Linked DNA regions of Homo sapiens: region 2 is linked to region 1. Evidence: fine-mapped expression QTL. A gene starts in region 1. The other region holds a variant in brackets. All regions are shown on one strand. Distances are from middle to middle.

What was found. PIP is the estimated chance that this variant, and not a neighbour inherited with it, causes the effect.
Region 2: its variant is fine-mapped to the expression of PACRG in uterus (GTEx, PIP 0.94).

The regions. Positions count from the first base shown.
Region 1 is chr6:162,723,424-162,734,623 of GRCh38, reverse strand. It overlaps PACRG (parkin coregulated), which reads right to left and starts at 6,650. Exons shown (of 5, transcript NM_001080379.2): 1 at 6,233-6,650. The coding sequence starts at 6,388. It overlaps PRKN (parkin RBR E3 ubiquitin protein ligase), which reads left to right and starts at 6,858. Exons shown (of 12, transcript NM_004562.3): 1 at 6,858-6,962. The coding sequence starts at 6,956. RefSeq lists silencers at 7,030-7,251, 6,741-7,280.
Region 2 is chr6:161,809,076-161,820,275 of GRCh38, reverse strand. All of the region lies in intron 6 of PRKN (parkin RBR E3 ubiquitin protein ligase), which reads left to right. Among named protein-coding and RNA genes, the nearest start is that of LNCR-SMAL, 420 kb to the left of the region's middle. The variant G/A (reference allele first, on the strand shown) is at 5,233.

The sequences.
Region 1 (11,200 bases):
TGGAAAAGCCAAATGGAATGAAGATCACTAGCCCTATTATATATGAAAGAATAAATATATGACATTAAGTAATCAATTATTAATAAAGTTACTTGAAATAATAAAAACAGCACTGATATATTATTTAAATTGGATAGGAATTCCTAAATTTGATAGGAAGATGTTTGATATAATTTAATTTAAGTATATAAAGGGTAATGTAACAATTCTCTGGCCATTTAGGGAAAATAAGTCAAAATTTATACCTTCCAAAATCAAAATGACTTAAGGTGAAGCAAACTTTCAAAATAAAAAATTAAAAGTAAAACAGAATCCAGGAAAAAAAGACTGAATTTTTTCTCATCATCTTAGACAGGAAAAAGCTTTTCTAAGCCAAACCACTTTAACTTTTTTCAATGAACATGTGTAACTTTTATGATACTGCATAAAACAGCTGCAAATTATTCTCATTTCTAGATTTAATATCTATATAACATCATTGGCATTTTCTTTGGAGCCACTGATTTGAAGATGATTGTCTAATTATAGTATAAAATATAGTCTTTCATTAATTCAACTGATCAAAATAAGATAAATGGCAGCTACTATGTGCCATAAATTTTTCTTGAGGTGAGGATGCAGCAATGGGTGAAATAAACAAATTCCTGCCCTTCTGGGGCTTACTCTCTGGTAGAAGAAAAACACAGGCTCAACTAAATTAATATTAGAGGGAAAAATATAAAACAGGGAAGGGAGATGGGAGTGCTGGAGCAGGGATGGAAGGGATTGTTAAGGGTCTGAAGTTTAAAATAGAGTGGTCAGGAAGAGGCTCACTAAATAGCTAATTTTTAAACAGAAATTTGAAGCATCAAGAGATGAGGACACACAGGGTAAAATGCATTTCAGGCAGAGGAAACAGGAAGGGCAAAGGCGTGGCACTAACTGAGTTCCGGAGGCAGGGCCAGCAGAGTTGCATAAAGCAGCAAGGGTGGGCAGATCACACAGGGCCTTCCCAATAGAGGAAGCTTAGCTTTTACTCTGAGTGAGGCAGGGAGCCACCTGAGGGGTTGAGGTGACGAATGCCATGATTCGGCCTTCTCAAGTTTTAAAGGGAGCTTCTGGGCTCCACAATTAGAGAGGATGGCTTAAAAAAATTCAAAATAGAGACAAATAACAATTATAATAAGAAAGTAGGAGAATATGAGATAAGAAGAAAGGGTAGAATTGCTTTCCTTCATTCATCAAATATTTATTGAATACACTGTTAGGTTCTGGTTAAGATTAAAAAGTGACTTAGATGTGGATACTGCCCTCACGGAGAATTTACATAAGGAGATAAAACATGAGCAGAAATGACCATAATACAAAGTAGAACACAATGAATAAAGGATAACTTTCTATGTGGGTGACAGGAAGGGAGAATTAAAGAAGTCTTCTTAAAGCAGTTGGCATTTTGCTGGCCACAAAAATATAAGCTTCTTGACAGCATGTGTTCTGTCTTTTGCTGACTGCTAAATTCCTAGCATTTAAAACAGTGCTTTGCACATAGTCTGTGATCAATAGATATGTGTTACCTGATGATAGAATGAATTTGTATATGCAGATATGTAGGGAGAAGGGTGTTCGAGCAAAGGGAACAACATAAACAGAAACACAAAAATAAAGAATATGAGTTTATTTCCTTGGTTCAGATTGACTGAAGCAAATGAGAACAGTGGGAGATGAAATTTTAGAACACAGAATGGGATTAGATCACACAAGACCTTGCTGGCCCTGGGGAAGTATCTTGACTTTTTTTCTATAAGAATTGGGAAGCTCCAAAAGCTCTGAATAGTGATAGGAGCAGAACATTGTACCAGAAAGATTAGTGTAATTGTACTGATAATTGATTGAGGGAGTCAACCAATTGATAGGTGGATGATATTGTACAAGCCTAGACAAAAGGTGATGAGGGCACCCATTAGTTCATCGCCACTTGGTCCCTTCATCATTAGTACTTCTCTGCCAGAGACATCTGTTTATTTGTATTGTAATTATTTTACTTGTCTCTCTCCTTTTCTTCACTAATAATGTAGCACATTTAGCACTGGAGCTAGACACTTCTAATTATCCCCCAATATTCCTTGGCTACAGTAATAAAACATTGTGAGTTTGAGCCGGACACAGAGCTACCAGTTAAAGACTACATGTCCCAGCCTCTCTTGCAACTAGCTGTGGCCATAAGACTAGGTTTTGGCAATGGATTTGAGCAGGAGTGAGGATTGCTGTTTCTGGGACATGCCCTCATAGTGAAGCTGTTTGCTCTTCATTTCTTCCTGCCTCATTCTTGCAGATTGCTCCATACCCATTTTTCTCTCCTCCACCTGAAGTAGGTGTTGGAGATGATGCCCTTTTGGAACTACATAGCTTCCTTCATCCTTTTCCTGAGGAGACAGGTACGTGGGCTTGGGAGTTGCTTCATGGGTCAAGCTTTCATAGGCTTTTGCAAAAAGGGAAAATGTAGGTGTATTTATTACTAGGTTCTGGCCAGTTGGATGAGAATGAAAGTGGGGTGCTGTGTCTGGGTCATGCACATAATGGGAAGCTCTCTGCTTCCACTTTCCTCCTTCTTGAGGGCAGGTATTTGACCCTGGTGGTCTCGAGCCCCCCTTGTCTCAGGTGTCATTTTACAGGATGCAAAGAACAAACATGCTCCTATGCCCCTGCACCTGCCTCATGGGGAATGCTGCCCAACCTCCTGGGATTGCCTACAAAATTGAACTTCTATTATGAGAGAAACAACTTCCATCTTAATTAAGCTATTGTTATTTGGTCAGTGTTACAGAAGCCAAATTAATATTTTAATATATAATTTATAAATATTGATGATTACCACTACGTGTTAAATGAGCACATGATTGGTAAATATAAAACACACTATACATGTAAAGTATAGGTTGAACTATCCCTTATCTGAAATGCTTGGGACCAGAAGTGTTTTGGATTTGTTTTTGTTTTTTGTTCAAATTTGGAATACAGTCATCCCTCAGTCTCCATGAGGAATTGTTTCCAGGACCTCCTGCAGATACCAAAATCTTCAGATGCTCAAGTCCCTGATATAACATGGCGTAGTATTTGTATGTAACCTACACATTTCTACCTATATACTTTAAATCATGTCTATATTACTTATAATATCTAAAACAATATAAATGCTCCATAAATAGTTGCTATGCTCTATTGTTTAGGGAATAATGACTCAAAAAAAAAAGTCTGTACATGTTCAATACAGATAAAATTTTTATCCCAAACATTTCAATCCAAGGTTAGTTGAATCCATGGAGGCAGAATCTGTACAAAGAGCTGACTATATCTGTATTATATACTGATGGTCACGCCAGTTCTGAAAATCTGAAATCCAAAATGCTCAAAAGAGTTTTCTTTGAGTGTAATGTCAACACTCAAAAAGTTTTGTATTTTGGACCACTTCAGGTTTCAGACTTTTGGAATAGGAATACTCAACCTTTAATATTAAAAAAATTATTTATTCCATTCCCCTAAACTTTGAGCATAAAGCATCTATAGTCTTTTGAGAAGGAAAGCTGTAATAGAAAGCTTAGGCTGAACTCAACTTCTCTGTCACCATAACCCTGGGTCGATTTTCTAACTTGCTTCGTGATAAGCTTGTTCAGCACAGAAAGTATCTGACAAGATAAAGACAACAAAATACTGGGTTACTAGTTTCTGGTCATGGGCTCTATCACACCCCAAACAAGACTTTTAAAGGAAAATGAACTATGAAATCTTCAAGTTGTGTATCTCATATCTCTTTATAGGCAAGCACTATAAAAATGTGAATTTGAATATTATTTCATTGCAGGGCTTTTGTGATGCTTGTTTTCTTATAGAATGCAACAAAAATTTCATGGAAAGAAAGTCTAGTTTCTATTGAAGAAAAATATTTGACATTGAGATTTTAAAAATTTTGCCATTTACATTTATCATTATTTTTTCAATAATCTTGCACTCTCATATCCAGATTGTTTAAATAAGCATTTCTGCTTGCACAGCCCATTTGATGAAACATATTTATTATCAAGTTTATGTACTTGTATCACTATCGCACTCAGAGAAATATCAGGAGTCTCTGTATAACTCCTTATGATATATACAGTTCTTCATGTTTTAGGTGGAAGAGCATTGGAATGTTGACTTATCTAACTGGAAAAGTGGTTTGGAGGGTGTTGGCTCTTGGAGCATGAGGTTGCAATTAAGAAAAGCTGGAAATTGGCATACACGTCCTGAATCAAAATACACCTTCAGAAAGAGATGAGGACATTTTCACCTTATAATGCTGAGAAGTCTATACTGCTAAAGATAAAAATGGTGAAATGTAAATATTGGTTATGAAATTGAAAATTTTTATTTCCTGTACCACTGAAGTTATTTTGTATAAACGGTATTGTCCAGCCTTCTTTTATCAAGATTTGAATGTTGTTATTTTGGTTTTCCTCGGAGTACTAAGGGCAGGGACTTTGCTTTGCTGATCCCAAATCCCCAGAACTGTGCTTAGCAAACACTGGGTATTAAAAAAAAAAAAAAGAGAGACAGTTGTTGACTGAATAAATAGATGAATGGATAAATAATGTTTGCATTTAAGAATTACGATTTCCAATGGCAAGAGAGGTATTGCTAGTACAAGATTTTCCTTTAGAACATAAAAAGAGAAGATAATGGATCTCAATTAAGTTGTTTATAAAGAAGCCTGCTTCATAATCAATGTTTTTTTTAAGTCATGTAGGCATACTTATTACATTTGGCAATACAGAAACATCAGATTTTGCAGAACTATCTCTTTAGGTGTAAGATTATATTAAAGAATTAATATGATACAAGAATTATGAATACAGGTTTAGGAAAAAACAGAAAAGAACCCCAACCAGTAAAAAAAAAATTAAAGTATAACATTAAAAAACATCAAAATTGTAAATATTGTGTAGAAGAAAAACTAAATGATTAACCTGAATGGTTATGGTATTGCTGATAAATGCATCATCTTGACTCCTAGGAGAACCAATTTATGTGAAATTCCATGAAAAAGAATTAGTTACAACAAGCAGAATTTTAGTCCATTTCCAAGAATTTTAACTACTGTAAATCACCTGACACACTTCCCAATAATTAGGATATCGTTTTGCATAGCCACATGGGAACCTGGCCTAGAGGTCTATAGGTAATCTGTTTCATTCATGTATTTTAAGTATGTCGTTTAGGAATAAGTTATCAGGTTTGCAACCTATAAGCAAAGGAAATAATGTGACACTGGAAAACAACACTATTCATTTAACATAATGAATTGCCATGTAATAACTCAGATCTTCCCAGGGTGTAAATTACACAAATTTGAAAGATGCATTTATTATTTAATGCCTCATTCCCAGACAGTTGCTTACTCAGTAGCAAAATCTGTCTTAGCATACCAAGTGTAAAGCTATTTAACAAATAGGAAGGTTTAAAAAATATATACTATCATGCAGACAGCTAAAATATTTGTATATATTTTTAATCTTTTTTCTCTAATGATACTTAGAATATTTTATTTTTATTACTACAAATAATAGAGATGAAATATGAATTGTATTAGTAGCAGAGATATATGAGCTAAAGCTTGTATTGTTTAAAGCACATCATCTTAAAAGGCCTGTCAGGAAACAGTGTTCATATTAAGTTGGCTTTCAGTACTCTAAGAAGATGACATCATTTTGTAAGAGACAAGTGTTGTTAGAGCAAATGCTAGGATATTCTAAAATTTCCTAGGTTGAAGTGAAGAAATTTCTCATTATAGATTATTTCATGAGTTTATGTTCCCGGTTGTATATCAGCTCATGTTAAATTTTGCAAGAGTTTATGATTTCTAAGAACTCACCTTCTATAAGGCCCTTTGCTGAGTGGGGCTAGTTAGGAATTAGTAAGTAAAGGGGATCTTTTTTCCTCGTGTAAATAGCTTAAGAGTAATTTTGGGCGGTCCAGAAACCATAAGTTATCAGGAAGGTGCTTATAAATGGGCAGAGTACATCACTTGCCCAAGATTCTAACAACCTAGCCTGCCCCCCACACACTGTGGGGCACCGTTTGCTACTTGCCAAGTAACTGCCTTTTTTGGCAAAGACCACCCAGGACATGGCTCAGAGTCCATCCTAAGGCTGGCCAACCTCTGTAAATCTCGTGTCCCCTGATTCAGAGCGAGTGCATTTAATTCAGGAAGATCACTTACGACTGAGTTTTTCATCATGGCTTTGACTGTGAAACCCTCAGAAACCAGAGAGTGAGGCTGGTGCACCGGGAGCGGCTGTTGTGCCAGCAGCTTGGTCCTCTTCGGCATCTTGTCTGGGCATTTGTTTAAGCTCAGGGTCTCTTTTTCTGCCACCATCTTCCTAGAAAATGTCTTGTTCTCATAAAAAGTGTAGTAAAAGAATCAGTGGGCTTTACGGATGTGAGCAGGAGGTCTGGAAAAAAATATCAAAAGGCGCGATAATGGTAGAAATTCAACCCCTCGTAGTGCCCAGGTTGATCCAGATGTTTGGCAGCTCCTAGGTGAAGGGAGCTGGACCCTAGGGGCGGGGCGGGAAGAGGGCAGGACCTTGGCTAGAGCTGCAACAAGCTTCCAAAGGTAAGCCTCCCGGTTGCTAAGCGACTGGTCAACACGGCGGGCGCATAGCCCCGCCCCCCGGTGACGTAAGATTGCTGGGCCTGAAGCCGGAAAGGGCGGCGGTGGGGGGCTGGGGGCAGGAGGCGTGAGGAGAAACTACGCGTTAGAACTACGACTCCCAGCAGGCCCTGGGCCGCGCCCTCCGCGCGTGCGCATTCCTAGGGCCGGGCGCGGGGGCGGGGAGGCCTGGAGGATTTAACCCAGGAGAGCCGCTGGTGGGAGGCGCGGCTGGCGCCGCTGCGCGCATGGGCCTGTTCCTGGCCCGCAGCCGCCACCTACCCAGTGACCATGATAGGTACGTGGGTACCTGCCAGGTACAGCCTCTCTGCGCCGCCCCACGCCCCGGTATGGCGCCACGCCCCGCCTCGGCCGACCAGGACCCCCGGTGCCAACTGTCAATGACGGGGCCAAAGTGCCCGTGCCGTCCCCGGCCCGCGCCGCCGGGCTCCCCAGCTCAGCGACGCGGGTCCGGGGCCCCAGTGTGTGCGTTCGAAGCCCTCGCCTGCCCGCCCCTGCTCTGAGCGTTCTCATGAAGACCGCCTCGACGGGGACGCCAGGCGGCCCCGCACCCCCGCTCCTCGTTCGCGGTCCCCCGGACCGTGTGGGGTCCCGAAGCCTTCTCCCCGCCGCCGCCCCTCACCTTCGCCCCGCCGCCGCCCCTCACCTTCGCCCCTCACCTCACTGGCCGGTTGTGGTGCGGTTCAGGACCCATCGAGACCCACTCTCTGTGGGGCTCTTTCAGGAAACCGCAGCAAAGCATTAAACTCTAATGGAAGGCACCTGGTGAGGGTGGCTGGCTCCACAGAAACTCCTCCAGATAGATCTAAACTTGCTCCCTCGGATGTTTCCTTTTAAACTTCTCATTGGAGGGCTGAGATGAAAGAAACATTAAGAGTAAATAGTAGCCAAGATTAAATCTATTGCCTTTTGCAAAATAACCTTTCTTTTTTTTTTTTGTAAAAGAACGACCGAGGTGCAAGTTTGTGAACGAAACTTAGTGGCATCAGAGTTGTTCATGAACACTTGATGTGTAAGATGAGCAAAGGTCCTCTCTTCCAGGGTTGTTGAGCCAAAAGTTACTTTAGGGGCTATCCCTGAAAATTAATGGAAATGCACCATATGTTTGAAAAACAGTGCTAGATGGGGTTTCATTATTGTGGAGGTTTCTCCAGGTTATGTATGGAGGGTTTAGTGAGCTTGTTTATTCCTGAGGAGGGTCCTTTACAAAACACTTTTGATTGCAGTAAGTACGTTCGAAGTCAGATGTGGTCTGTCCAGAAGAAAGATGAGAGGTGGATTTATAAAGTATATGATCTTTATGCACTGAAAACACTTCTTACATCTGTTTATTTGTGAAGTTATTGTTAAAATGTAAACATTCTCCCCATCAGTGGGAGAATCAAGCCAGCTAACTGGCATGGTCTTTGTGGTAAAACAAGAATGTTGTCCAACTTTTCTTCCCTTTCTAGCATGGTCTGACTTTTGGTGAATGACTTGAAAGTTAATCAAATTACGAAAAAAATATTTTTTATGAGTCTTCTTGAGCTCTTTTTAGGTGACATTTACGTAAGATTCACTTGCAAGCACAAGTTTGAACTGAATCAGAAAACCAAGTAGAAGAGATTTTCCAATATCTGTGCTGTCAGTCTACAGGAAGAAAATAGCCTATACCTTATTTTGAAGACAGTTAAATACATTTTATTTTAATTTAACTTAATCTAGTGCACAGATAATTTTAAGAGAAACAAATTTATTGTAAAGCTATATAAAGACAAGCACTTAAGATCTAAAGAACATTACTCAGTTATAAGTTATGACCTAATAAGTGATTATATAAATAACTTTATTAGGATGAAATGTGTTTGGACAGTTCTGTTTAGTTTTATCTGGAATTCTTCCAATAAGGAAGAAATATCTTTGGAGTTGATGATTAAACAGTTATCAATTACTGGTAATGACATGGAGAATATAAGGTTGGTTTTTAAAAGTGTTATTTCTCTCACTCCAGCCATGGTTTTACATAGTGCAAATAAGTGTGCAGTACAACATAAATGATTAAATCCATGCCTGCTTTCCCTAGGAAATGTGCCTTACATATAAGATCATGGACAATGTGCAATAAAATATTCAACTAGTTGCATTGCCTAATTCTGAAATTAGACACACGTCTTTTTTTTTTTTTTTTCCTCTTTTTGAGACAGGTTCTGTCTCTGTCACCCAGGCCGGAGTGCAGTGGCACCATCACAGCTCACTGCAGCCTCCAACTCCTGGGCTCAAGTGATCCTCCCATCTCAGCCTCCTGAGTAGCTGTGACTACAGGTGTGTGCCACCATGCCTGCCAATTTTTTGTTATAGTTTTTGTAGAGATGGAGTTTCATAATGTTGCCCAGGCTGGTCTCAAACTCCTGGGCTCAAGCAATCCTCCCGCATTCGCCTCTGAAAGTGCTGGGATTACAGGCATGAACCACCACGCCCAGCCTCATTAGCCACATTTCAGTAAACATCTGAATGGTCAGTTTGGGATTTGGGTGTCGTGAACAGTGCTAAAGGTAGGTGAAAGTGAAAACCATTAAAAGGAAGCCTTGGAGTGATGGGTTTTGTGTTTTTGTGACAAAAATTCAGAGCCAGGAAAGACATTATAGACTTTATCCAGTGATCACTAAAATGTAAATAGTATGTATCTGGGATTTTCTGTTAAAGGTAAGAGTGCTTCTCAAAGCTTGCTCCTTTCAGGCCTATGCTTTCTCTAACTATTACACTCACCTTGTTGCGGGATTCGGGAGTATGAGGGAGACCTCAGGTTGAAGCAGGAGAATCTTTATTGAGTGTACTCAGGCCCAGCTGACTCACATCCAAAAGACTGGGCCCAGAATAAAGACAGTACTTGACTTTTATACACACTTCACAAACGGAGGTGGGCTAGCTTGAAGCAAGCTTACAGTGGCGTGAAAGCAGGGATACAGAGGCAGGACAAAGACAGGATTGCAGATGACCATTGCCAAGCAACCCAGATGTTCGTTTTCTAGGTTTGCCTGGGCACAGGCTTATCCTATAACCTTCTCTGTGGTGCCCAGGCAGCTGTAGTTCAGGCCTACTCAGGCTTTTTATGACCTTCGTTGTACTACTTAGATAAAACAGAATACTTGAAATCACTAGTTACAGAGAACAAGAGTCTATAAACTCATTCTGTAAAACAAAGGAAAATTTGTTTTTCTTCTCCCTGTGTTGAGGGAGTGCTGAGAGAGTCTCCAGAGCATATTAGATAATATTATCAAGACTTTTCCTGGGTCTAGGCTGTGCCTGTTGCTGCTTCTGGAACAAGTTAGCCTAAAACAGGAAAACTTATTTCTCTTTCTTTTTAATTTTATTGTTCTTTAATTTCCCGCCTCAACCTTACTGCGAATAATATTCTGCCACTTTATTTAAATCCTGGCTTAGTTTAAGGAGAAACGTAAAGATGGGTTTCCTGGTAGAATAGGAGTAAACAGGACTGACTGTGACCTCACTGCTAATGACATGTACCTTCCTTTTACTTTCTCAAAACCGAAGATTCCCTTATTGGCATGAGGACTGTTTCAAAAGTACTTACATTTCCCACCTGCATTGTGATTGATGTGTTGAATGCCCTGACCCAGGCAGCTACAGAAACATAATTTAATTGAAGTCGGTTAAAAATTGTGCCTTTGTGGAAAGTGTGGAGAAGGACTTCAAGATGATATAAAGCAGAATAGAAAAGCTTAAAAGAATTCAATTTAGAAAAATGTAATTTTTGGTACCTCTATTAAAAATATATTTTGACTTTTTTAAAAATGAGCAATTCTTTGTGTTTAAAATGGAATGTTAGTGGGGATATTTGTGGTATGTTCTAAATGTTCTGTAGAACTGGATTTAGGTATTTGAGTAACAGCAGATATTAGAGTGCATGGTTATATATACAACAATGTTGTCAGTATTGAAATACACATTCAGTGTCTTAGACTTTTAAGAAGATTTTTGATTGACAAAAACCATTCATTGGAACATAGTCTCTTCTATACCTTGTTTCACTTAGCATCTCTTTGAGAATTTACATATCTGCATGTCCAGATCCACTCCACAGCGATTCCTGCCTAGTCTTTTATAGGATACACTAATTATGAAAATATTTACCAATAAATAAGCACTCATTAGGTTTACAGACAACTGTTGTCAGAAGTGTTTGTGGCCATATCTTTTTACTTGCACATGTAAGCATAGATGTAAAATAAAAATCGTATGACAATTTGAGTTAAAGAGTTTGTAGATTTTACATTTTCCTAGGTATTTCAAAATTTTTCCAAAATAAGTTGCCCAATTTTACAAGCCTATCTAAAGCCTCCACTAATACAACATGGTAGTAAAGAGCTGCCCTGCCCCTCTGGGCTGAAAATTGCCAAAAGACGTCCTTCCTGAGACTGACTCAGCTTTCACTAGCAGAACGCCTCCTGGATCTCCGGTCCCCCACCTCTCTCTCACCCTAGGGGTAGTGCCTTTCAGTGTACAAGCTGCACAACT
Region 2 (11,200 bases), 910 kb after region 1:
GCTAATTTATATTCCCACTAGCAATGTATGAGTGAACCCATTTTGCCAGAGCTAACTACCATTGAATTTTTATTCAATGGTGGTTATTGAATTTTTAGAAAGATTGTAAATTTGATGAGCAAAATGCTCTCTTTCTGGTAAAAAAGTTTAAATTACTATTAATAATGAGGTTAAACAGTTTCAAGCATTTACTGGGATAGGTACGTTTATGTCACTGGCCTATTTTCTGTGGCTTGATAATAGCATGTTTTTACTAAATTGTAAGAGCTCTTTATATACTGAGGATAATAATTTTTTCAGTGTTACTTATTACTAATATTTTTAGGCTTAATTTGGCCAGTTAATTTTATGCTGTTTTGGATATTATGCTTTGAAGTATCTCTTACGAGTTTTGATAAATCATTTTTTATTTGAAAAATATTTTCTAAGCACATGTTAAATATCTGCTGCTATGCTTAGTGATTGGACTTCAGTGGTGGATAAAATAAATTTATCTACTTTTTCTTTGAGATTCGCTTTAAAATGTGATGTGCCTTAATCTCTGAAAGGTAGCCTTTGAATGTAAACCAAATGTGTTTTTAATAGCACTATTGTACTGACATCCTTAGAGTAGAGTGGAATTTCTGTTATTAGAAGCTCTGCATGTATTTTTATAAAATTTATTTAATTTGGGAATTTGATTGGGGGTAATACCTATAGAGATACAAGAAACATTTAGGAGTTTAACATAAATCTTTGTTACTTTTATGCTCATTATTTGCTATTATTTTTATTTTTATTTTTTTGAGACAGAGTCTCACTCTTGTCACCCAGGCTGGAGTGCAGTGCGTGACCTCAGCTCACTGCAACCTCCGCCTCCCAGGTTCAAGCGATTCTCCTGCCTTAGCCTCCCTAGTAGCTGGGATTACAGGCACATGCCACCATGCTTGGCTAATGTTTGTATTTTTAGTAGAGATAGGGTTTCACCATGTTGTCCAGGCTGGCTTGAACTCCTGACTTCTAGCGATCTGCCCACCTTAGCCTCCCAAAGTATTACAGGCATGAGCCCACATGCCTGGCCTGCTATTATTTTTAAAGGGTATCACATCTGTATTCATCTACCTATGTATCCCCTTTATTTTTTATGATATGAGAGGACAGTCAAGGACTCTATGAGAAATGAAATTTCCATTTATCAATACTGTTCATTTGGGCACCTAAGTTCGGAGTATAATGTTTGAATGCAATGTACATTTTCAAGAACATAACCGCAGTGCGTTGAGGGTATTGAAACATTCATGCACTCAGATGCCACTTATTGAATGTCTCCAGGCCTAACCACAGTACATGTTAGATGGATAAGGCCCTCTTCACCTGTCCACTGACTCCGTCTGGCTCCCATGCCCACCTGTATACCTACAGGGCTTGACCTTCCCTATCTTACCCCACATTCAAAGACTTCTCCAGTTCGTAGCTCTATGAAGTGTGTGGAAACAAGTGTGTCAAATTCCCAGGCCCTTGTTGTTGGAGATCTCTTGCCTTCTAGTTTTTTTGAGGGAAAAATTACATCATTGCTACTGTCTTACTGCCTTCTGTGAAAATGGTTTTCCTTGCTATCTAGTAACCTTTCCAAACTTGCTAAATTCTGTTTGAAAGTGACTAGGGGCTGGGCACGGTGGCTCACACCCAGAATCCCAGCACTAGGGAGTCCAACGCAGGAGGATCGCTTTAGTCCAGGTGTTGGTGATCAGCCTGGGCAACATAGCAAGATCCTATCTCTGCAGAAAAATTCAAAACTTAGCCAGGCATGGTGGCATAGGCCTGTAGTCCCAGCTAATTAGGAGGCTGAGGCAGGAGATACTTGGGCATGGGAGGTTGAGGCAGCAGTGAGCTGTGATCGCACCACTGCACTCCAGCCTGGGTGACAGAGTGAGACCCCATCTCTAAAAATTAAAAAAAAAAAAAATTAAAACAAGTGAATCAGATGTCCAGTCTTTCCACTTTGTTTTGAACTTCTTGACCTCAGGATAGTAGGACTGAGTCTCACAAGGACCTGCCCCTCTACCAAAAACTGGTCTTTGAGTTTCCACCTATGTGTCTTTGGTAAATCTGACCTTATCTTTCAGGAGAGCTCAAAGCAGTCACCTCACAGCTGTCCATTTCCCCCTACCCAATCTAATTAGGTTCATCTGCACCTGATAACTCTGTGTTGCTGTGTGCCGTCAGAGTAATAAAATGCATGTCTGTGTTATGATTTGATTAACCTTCATTGGTGCCAATGCTGTTTCTCTGTTTCCATGGCTCCTACGCCAGTAGACTATCCAAGGAATTATTAGTTACCTTATCAGAGCTTCACATCTTCAGGCTCTTCGGGGGTCTCCTTGGAGCAACGGTGGGAAGTGATTATTCTGCCTCCTTATTTGTGTTTTCTGGAAGCTTGGCAGGTCAAGTTCTTTTTGAAAATATTGGGTTGAGGAAATTTAAGATGAGATTTCTTACGCTGTAGGAGTAGCGTTGTCATTCGTGATCATGTGTGATTGTGTTCACAGTTCTTTGTTTTTATTGTAACTTAGTCTATATAAACCAAAACCAAAATGTCGATAAAATTTTCCACATGCAATGACAAGTATTGATACATTTAAGACTTTTCAGTTTTATTAACAAGTTAACTTTTCTTAAAAATAAAGTGGAGGACTGAGCAATATAGGTTTACAATATTTCATTTTACCATGTAAGGATGTTTAAAAACACAGTAACAAAAGTATCTAGTCTCAACATCACTTAATAAAAGGGAATCATTTTAACAGGAAATCTGGGAAATATATAGTTTCAAATAAAGGACTTTCTTCTAATTGGAAAATTTGTCCTTGTCACTAGTTGGTGGTGACAAACATACACTAGGTCTAAATCCCTGGGGACTGGGCATGGGAAACCCACGTGGCCCTGTTTACTCTCCAGTTCTGAGGGGGCTACTTCTTAGCTCTGCAGTGAGGCTCACAATTCACTACCATTTAGAGCCTCTTAAAATCGAGACAGGATTCATGCCCAGAGTTTATCAGAAGTCTGTGAATACACAAAGCACATTGATTTTTCTTCCTATTCTTTTCCTTCAGAAGCTATAGTGATGGGGGCTCCAGGAGTTTTTAATGTGATTCCAGATTAATTCTCTAGCAGTGGACCGGGAAGGTAGAATTGATCAAATTCTAGGACCCAGTCTCCTGGGCAAATCGAAGCACAAATTAGAATAACAAAACAAAAACTTTATGTGTGTGTGAGTACGTGTGCATGTGCGTGTGTGTGTATGAAAGTAATGAAAGCCCAAAGCCAGGACCTCATTTTTTCAGTTCCCTTTTGCAGGGAGAACTTACCTATGGGTACCGTTTTGGAGGACAGGAATCAAGGCATATACTGAACCCTGTTCTCTTTGTGAGTGACCCTGTTGCCATTTGGGACATCTGAAACAGGGCATGCTTTCAAATGCAGCATAGTGACAATCCTTTTACACGTTGCTCAATAGCAAAATTGGGGTTAAGAAAGTGACTGCGCATGAACAATTTTTTTTTTTTTTTGAGATGGAGTCTCACTCTGTCACCCAAGCTGGAGTGCAGTGGCGTGATCTCGGCTCACTGCAACCTCCAACTCCTGGGGTGTGAACACATTCTTCTTGTGGCCTCCCTCCAGCTGCATTGTGAGAAGACAGCCACATATGAAAATCTTTGGTTAAACAAGCCACTGTATTCTTAAACCTTTTTTCTGTGCATGAAATTTTTCACTGAGGTATAAGTGGTGTGTGATAAAACACACATATTGAAAGTGTGCAATTCAATTAGTCATGATACATGTATACACCGGTAAGACCACTATCACAGTCAGTGAACCCATCACCCCCACAATTGCCTCAGGTTTCTTTGGATTCTCTCCCTCCCACCCCACTCTGCCTCCCCTTCTCATCTCCTGGAGACCACTGATCTGTTCTCTGTCCCCATAGATTAGTTACCATTTTTTAGAGGTTTTGGAAGTGGAGTTACCCAGTGTGTGTTTCTTTCTGCTTGTCTTCTTTCACACAGCATCATTATTTTAAGACTCACGCATGCTGCTGCATATGTCCCAGCTCCCTCCTCGTTGGTACTGAGCAGCCTGCCGCCACATGGACTGCAGGGATCCACCAGTTTATTCACTCATCAGTTGAGGAACATTTGGGTGGCTTCCTGTTTGGGGCTATTTCAAACAGAGCTGCCAGGAGCATTTGTGTACAAGTTTTTGCATGCACACGGGTTTTCTCTGCATTGGTTAGAAATTCTGGAGAAGAATGGCTGGATCTCCTGTTAGATACATGTTCACCTTTTTAAGAAATTGCCAAACTATTTTTCCATAGTGAGTGTACGTGTGCATACCATTTTCCAAAGCGCAGGTTTACACCAGCAGCCAGACGCTTCAGGTGAACCCGTCGTACAGTTTTCTAGTCTTCTCTGTGCAGCTCTCTCTGCTCAGTTCTGTTAACTCCAGCTGCCCCGTCTTCCCCCTACACACAGACCTGTGGGTTCAATTCCGCAAGTCTGCTGAGCTCCCGCTGGGGTCTCCCTCCCTGAACCAGGGCCTGGCCACTCTCTGAAGGCAGGAGGCTGGAGTGATTGCAGGACTCAGCACGCTTGCTTCCTGTCTCTCACGGACCTTTGTCCCACATTGTCTCATGTCACTGTCTTGAAAACCATTGTTTCATATATTTTGTGGAATTATTAGGTTGCTTCAGGGAGGGAGATAAATTCAGTGCTTGTTATTCCATTGTAGCCAGAAGTGAAAGTCTGATAAGGCACTTTTGAAAGTTGACCAAGTTGGATATTAGGATCTGCGTTAACCACCAGGAACAAAAAGTCCCCTGCTAAGTAACCTATAATCAGCCCACAAAAGAATGGTAACTTTTCTTTGTATAGGTGAACACTTTGGATGGTTGAACTTTGTATACCTGAATGTTTTTAGATAAGTTATAGTTCTTTGAATTCAAAGTACAATACCTCTAGTTGTATAAAGCTAGGTGAAAAGTGTATAGCATTATTCATTTTATACATATGAAAATTGAGTCCAAGAAGTAAGTGCGAGTGTCCTAGAATCATATGAAGTAACGGCTGCCACTTGCAGTTGTGTAGGTTGTATACTGCACAGGCATACCTGGCTGCAGCAATGAATTGGGGATGAAATGCGGCTTATGGTCTGTTCCCTAGACTTAGTTCCCTGGTATGTGGTTGCACACACCTA[G/A]AGAGAGTTTTTCTCATTGTCATAAAAGTACCTCAAAGACCCATAAATTCAGAGAAGAAACTGTGTGATATGATTTGGTTGTGTCTCCACCCAATCTCATCTTGAGCTCCCATAATTCCCATGTGTCATGGGAGGGACCCTGTGGGAGGTAATTGAATCATGGGGGCGGGTCTTTCCCATGCTGCTCTCCTGATAATGAATAAGTTTCATGAGACCTGATAGTTCTATGAAAGGCAGTTCCCGGCTGGGCGCGGTTACTCATGCCTGTAATCCTAGCACTTTGGGAGGCTGAGGTGGGCAGATCACCTGAGGTCGGGAGTTCGAGACCAGCCTGACCAACATGGAGAAACCCTGTCTCTACTAAAAATACAAAATTAGCTGGGCGTGGTGGCACATGCCTGTAATCTCAGCTACTTGGGAGGCTGAGGCAGGAGAATTGCTTGAACCCGGGAGGCGGAGGTTGCGGTGAGCCAAGATTGGGCCATTGCACTCCAGCCTGGGCAACAAGAGTGAAACTCCATCTCAAAAAAAAGAAAAAAAGGCAGTTCCCCTGCACACACTCTCTTACCTGCCACCATGTAAGACATGCTTTTGCTCCTCTTTCGCCTTCTGCTATAATTGTGAGGCCTCCTTAGCCATGTGAAACTGTGAGTCTTTATTAGCAACATGAGAATGGACGAATACACTGTGTCTCTTTAGAAACCTCTTTGGTCACAGCACATTTGACTTCCAAGAGTTATGCTTCAGGTGGCACCGTTATGTCAGTCTGGACATTTTTGTGTATTCTTTGTCACTATGAAGAATATTTTAACAGGAATGGAAACAGCACAATATTAATTCACTCACAGCACAATGCTTGAATAAGAGTAGAAAGCAGTGTAGCCAGTGTTGCTCACTACAACTAGAGACTGGCAGTTTGTGCTCCTTGGATGTTTGCTCCTGGAGAGGAAAAAACGTCGCATCACCAAAGATGCTACCTTCTGTCAGCAAGGCCCTGAGCATAAGATAAAAGGATCCTCTTTTATTTGGATATATTTGCCCCACCTCTGTCCATTTTACCTGTTTTAGACCCTTTGAATTGGGGTCTGAGTATGAAACAGAATCAATCCAAATAATTCTAGATGCTTTAATGACAAAGATGAATTTGCAGAGATGTGGGCAGTGGTAGTGAGGAACCCAGAAACTGCCAGCTCCATCAGCACCCCAGTCTTTCAGAAGTAAGTGGCCTGCTTAGTGCTGCCGCAGCTCCAGGAGGCATGGAGGAGAGGAAGAGGATGGCCAAGAGGATCTGTAGCAGGGAAGGATGAAGCCACTGTCAGAAAATGTGACCCAGAGCTGGGTGGCAGCTGGCAGCCAGAGATCAGGGGAGCCTTGTGGGTACAGCCCCAAGGGCCCAACTTTCTGGGATGCAGAGCAAGCCTGGCAGGGCAGAGAGTCGTCATGGTGATGCGGCATGGGCATAGGGGGTGGGGGCAGAGAGAAAATGTGCACTGTAGGCTTCCCGGTTATTTTCTCTGTGGATGGATGAATTTACCTTACTGATTATGGAAGGCCAGACAGGTCTTTTCCTTTTCCTTGGATAAGAAGTTAGAAGAGAAGGAGAAGGAAACTCAGCTACCCCGAGTCCCACCCATGTGGCAGGCATCAGCCAGAAGCTGTCCACAGATACTGCACCGCCTCGCCGCAGCCCGGTGAGGCTGGGGACATCCCCTCCTGTGGTGGGTGAGGCGCCTGAGACTGGAGGTTGGGCAAAGGGGGACTCACATGCTCAGGTGCGCACCTGGGATGCTGAACCAGGATGATGAGAAGTTCATATCCTTTCCACTGCACTTCCTCCCACAAGCTAAGCCTCTCCTTTAGGAAATCCAACTGTCTTCCTGTCAGTTAAAACAGAATCCATCCAAGGAGGTTAAGCATCTGGTCTTCCTGCTACGAGTCTCTCACCTGCTTCAGTCCAACTTCCATGTCTGATTTATCTTTTGAATAAACAAGCCTCACTTTGTTACTTCCTGCCTGAAAACTTCTGGTTCCATGTCCTATTCAGGTTTTATTCTAATTCTTTCATCACTTTTGACTATCATAAATAATGCTGCTGTGACCATTTGTGTAAACGCCTTTGTGTATACATGTTTTCACTCCTCTTGGGAGCAGACTTTGTGGAATTGCCAAACTCTGTGGTAGCATATATTCAATTTTTAAAGAAACTTTACAGTTTTAAAGAAACTGCCAAACTATTTTTAAAACATTTTAAAGTATCTCCACAATAATATTTAAGGGCTTTAGTTTCTCTATATCCTTGCCAACACTTGGTATTGTCAGTCTTTTTAATTTTGGATATTTTAGTAGGTGCATGATAATATCTTACATTGTTTTAATTTGCATTTCCCTGTTGTGTAATGATCTGCACCATCTTTTCATGTGCACATTTGACATTCTGCTATCTTCTTTACTGTGGCATCTATTCAAATTTTTCTCCATTTTTAATTGGGTTGTTGGTTGCTTGGTTGTTTTCTTAATACTAAACTGTAAGTTTTTTTATGTATACTCTCAACATAGGTCCTTTCTCAGACAGATGATTTGTATGTATTTTCTGCCAGTCTGAAGGTTGCCTTTTCATCTTTATGGTGACTTTCAAAGTTTTTTTTCCCCCTTTTGGACACAGGCTTTTGCTCTGTTGCCCAAGCTGGAGTACAGTGCCGTAATCTGCAGCCTCAAACTTCTGGCCTAAAGGGACTCCCACCCCCTGCCTTAGCCTCCTGAGTATCTGGGACTACAGGCAAACACCACCACACCTGAGTAATTATTTTTATTTTTATTCTTTTAGAGACAGGGTCTCCCTGTGTTGCCCAGGCTGGCCTCAATCTCCTGGGATCAAGCAGTCCTCCCGTCTCAGCTTCCCAAAGCACTGGGATTGTAGGTGTGAACTACCATGCCTGGCTTCAACAACATTTTAATTTTAATTTTGATGAAGTCCAATATATTGATTTTTTGCTTTTACTGTTCATTTTTTGGTTTATCTTATCTAGAAATTGTTGTCTTGCTCAAGGTTACAAAGAAAATGTCTGTTATATTTTTCCTTCTAGATTTTTTTTTAATTTTTATTTATTTATTTATTTATTTTTGAGACAGAGTCTTGCTCTGTCACCCAGGCTGGAGTGCAAAGACACGATCTCAACTCACTGCAACCTCCACCTCCCAGGTTCAAGCGATACCCCTGCCTCAGCCTCCTGAGTAGCGGGACTACAGGTGCATGCCACCACACCCGGCTAATTTTTGTATTTTTAGTAGAGATGGAGTTTCACTATGTTGGCCAGGCTGGTCTTGAACTCCTGACCTCAGGTGATCCACCCGCCTCGGCCTCCCAAAGTGCTGGGATTACAGGTGTGAGCCACCGTGCCCGGCCCCTTCTAGAAGATTTAAAGTAATAGCTCTTTCATTTAGATCCTTGGTCAATTTCTTGTTAATCTTTGTGTTTGGTGTGATGTAAGGGACAATGGTTATGTTACTGTTGCTATCGTGCATATGTTTCTCCTCTTGTCCAAGCCCCGTATATTGAAATGACCAGCCCTCTCCCGTTGAGCTACCTTGGCTCCTCTGTTAGACTCACTCTTCTGTTCTGTTGATCTATTTATCCATCCTGATGCCAGTACCACACTGGCTTGATTTCTGTAACTGTATATGATGATGTCTAAAACTGTCTTTCATTTTGCCAGGTGAACTAGAAAATTAAACAATTTTTTTTTTGAGAAACTAAAGGACAATTACTGCTTGGAATCATTAGTAAAACCCAGAAAACTTTCTTTCTGACAATTGATTGGCCTAGTTTATTGGCTTGTGTGCTGCATTATAGCAAGTCCTGAAATCAGGAAGTTTAAGGCCTGAGATTTTGTTTCATTTTTCAGAATTGCTTTGGCTAATACAGATCATTATATTTCCATATAAATTTTAGAGTTAGTTTGTCTAGTTCTTTAAAAACTTTGATGATATTTCAAAAGGGATTATTTCGAATCTACAGATCATTTTGAGAATTACTATTTTACCAGATAGTCTTCCCTCTGCTTGGAGTACCCTTTCTTCCTCTTCCCCATCAGACGAACCCCTGCCCATCCTTAAAGATATAGCTCAAAAGACTTTCCTCCTCTGGGAAGCCTTCCTCAAGTTCCCCAGGTAAAGCTAGACACCACCTTGGCTGTATTTATGTCTCTGCTATAGCATACATCGTGTTGAATTTGAATTAGAATCCTAAGGATAATGACTGTATTTTATTTTTTGATTTTTCCAATGCCTAGTATAAGGTATATGCCATATGCTTAATAATTACTTGTCTAATAAGAAGTAAATACATGAATGTTGCAAATAATCATTTTTAGCATAGGTATTTTCATTTGAATGACTGTTACATAAGTAGTCACTCCTACAGTTAGCAGCCATGTCTTGATCCAAGGGAATGTCAGCTTCCCAACCAAGGTATGATGCTTTCTGTTTCAGAAAAAAAGCTTTTGTATATGGGTATAAAATGATGAAACGTTAGACGTTGTCTAGGACCTCCTCTTATCTCTAAATTTTAAGGAGGTCACACAGTAATTTATTATCAGTCTAGAATTCCAGTCTGTCATAATCCATTCAAGAGTTTTCTTAGACAAAACTAAAATATACATGTATATTAGTTTGCTCAGGCTGCCTACTACAGACCAGGTGGCTTAAATAACAGAAATGTATTTCCTCACAGACCAGAAGCCCAAGATCAAGGTGTTGAAAAGGTTGGTTTCTTCTGAGGCCTCTCTTCCTCGCTTGCAGATGGCTGTCTTCTCCCTGTATCTCCAGATGGGCTTCCCTCTGTACATATCTGTGTCATAGTCTCTGCTTCTTGTAAGGACTCCAGTCATGTTGAATTAAGTTCCACATATCTGACCTCATTTAACCTTAATTAACTCTTTGAAGGCCCCATCTCCAACTATAATCACATTCTGAGGCACTAGGGGTTAGGACTTCAATGCACGAATTTTAAGGGGGCACAGCTCAACCTGTAATACTATGTATGTATGAGTATGAATACTCATTATAAAGTTTGTTATATTTTATTAAACACATTTTTAAAAGTTTATTATTAAAAACACGTCCTAAGGGATTGAAAGAATTCCACATTGCTTTAGAGCAGAAACAGGCACACTTGTTTAGATTAGCTACTTAATAATTTGAAGCCAGTTTAACAGAAATGTAGAGTCTCAGGTGGTATCCTTCATCCACCTACATTCTTACATTCTGTTGATGATGTGGGACTTGTCTCTTGTAGTTTTTCAGTGTGAAGGGTGCCCTAAGTGCATTTGTCAAGGAAAAATTTATTATCAGTATAGGAAATTAAAATTTTATCACCAAAATGGAATGATTTATATTTTTAGTTTTCAAAAATTGATGAGTGAATAAGGTGACTTACATGTTAAATAATGTTAAATCCAAAAAATAGATATTTCCCTTAAGAAAAAAGTTCGCTACGCAGGACAATAAGCTATTAAGCAACTGGGATATTTGCTATTTTTTTTGTCGCTTTATTTCTAGAGCCCACACAGAACCAATAATTCCAAAATGCATATACCTTGACCCAGTTTCTCCCTAACATTTTTTTCTTAACATTGTTATCTAAACCCTTGACATTGTACTTCAGATTCATTGTCACCATAAATGCAAGTCCAGAATCCACCTCCTCACCTTCTCGTATGATCAAGTACCCAGCCCCAAGTGGTAATTCCTCAGGACTCGGGATTTCTGAGTCATCCCCCTTCCCCCCCTGCCTTTGAGGACTGTTGATGTGTGGGTAAGGGGTACACCCAATATGGTATTTATAACTAAAAAATATTTTCTATCTGTGTCATCCTTTCAACTTTAAAGTTAAATGAATATGATCTGACCGGGCTCTGTGGCTTATGCCTATAATCCCAGTACTTTGGGAGGCTGAGGTGGGCGGACTGCC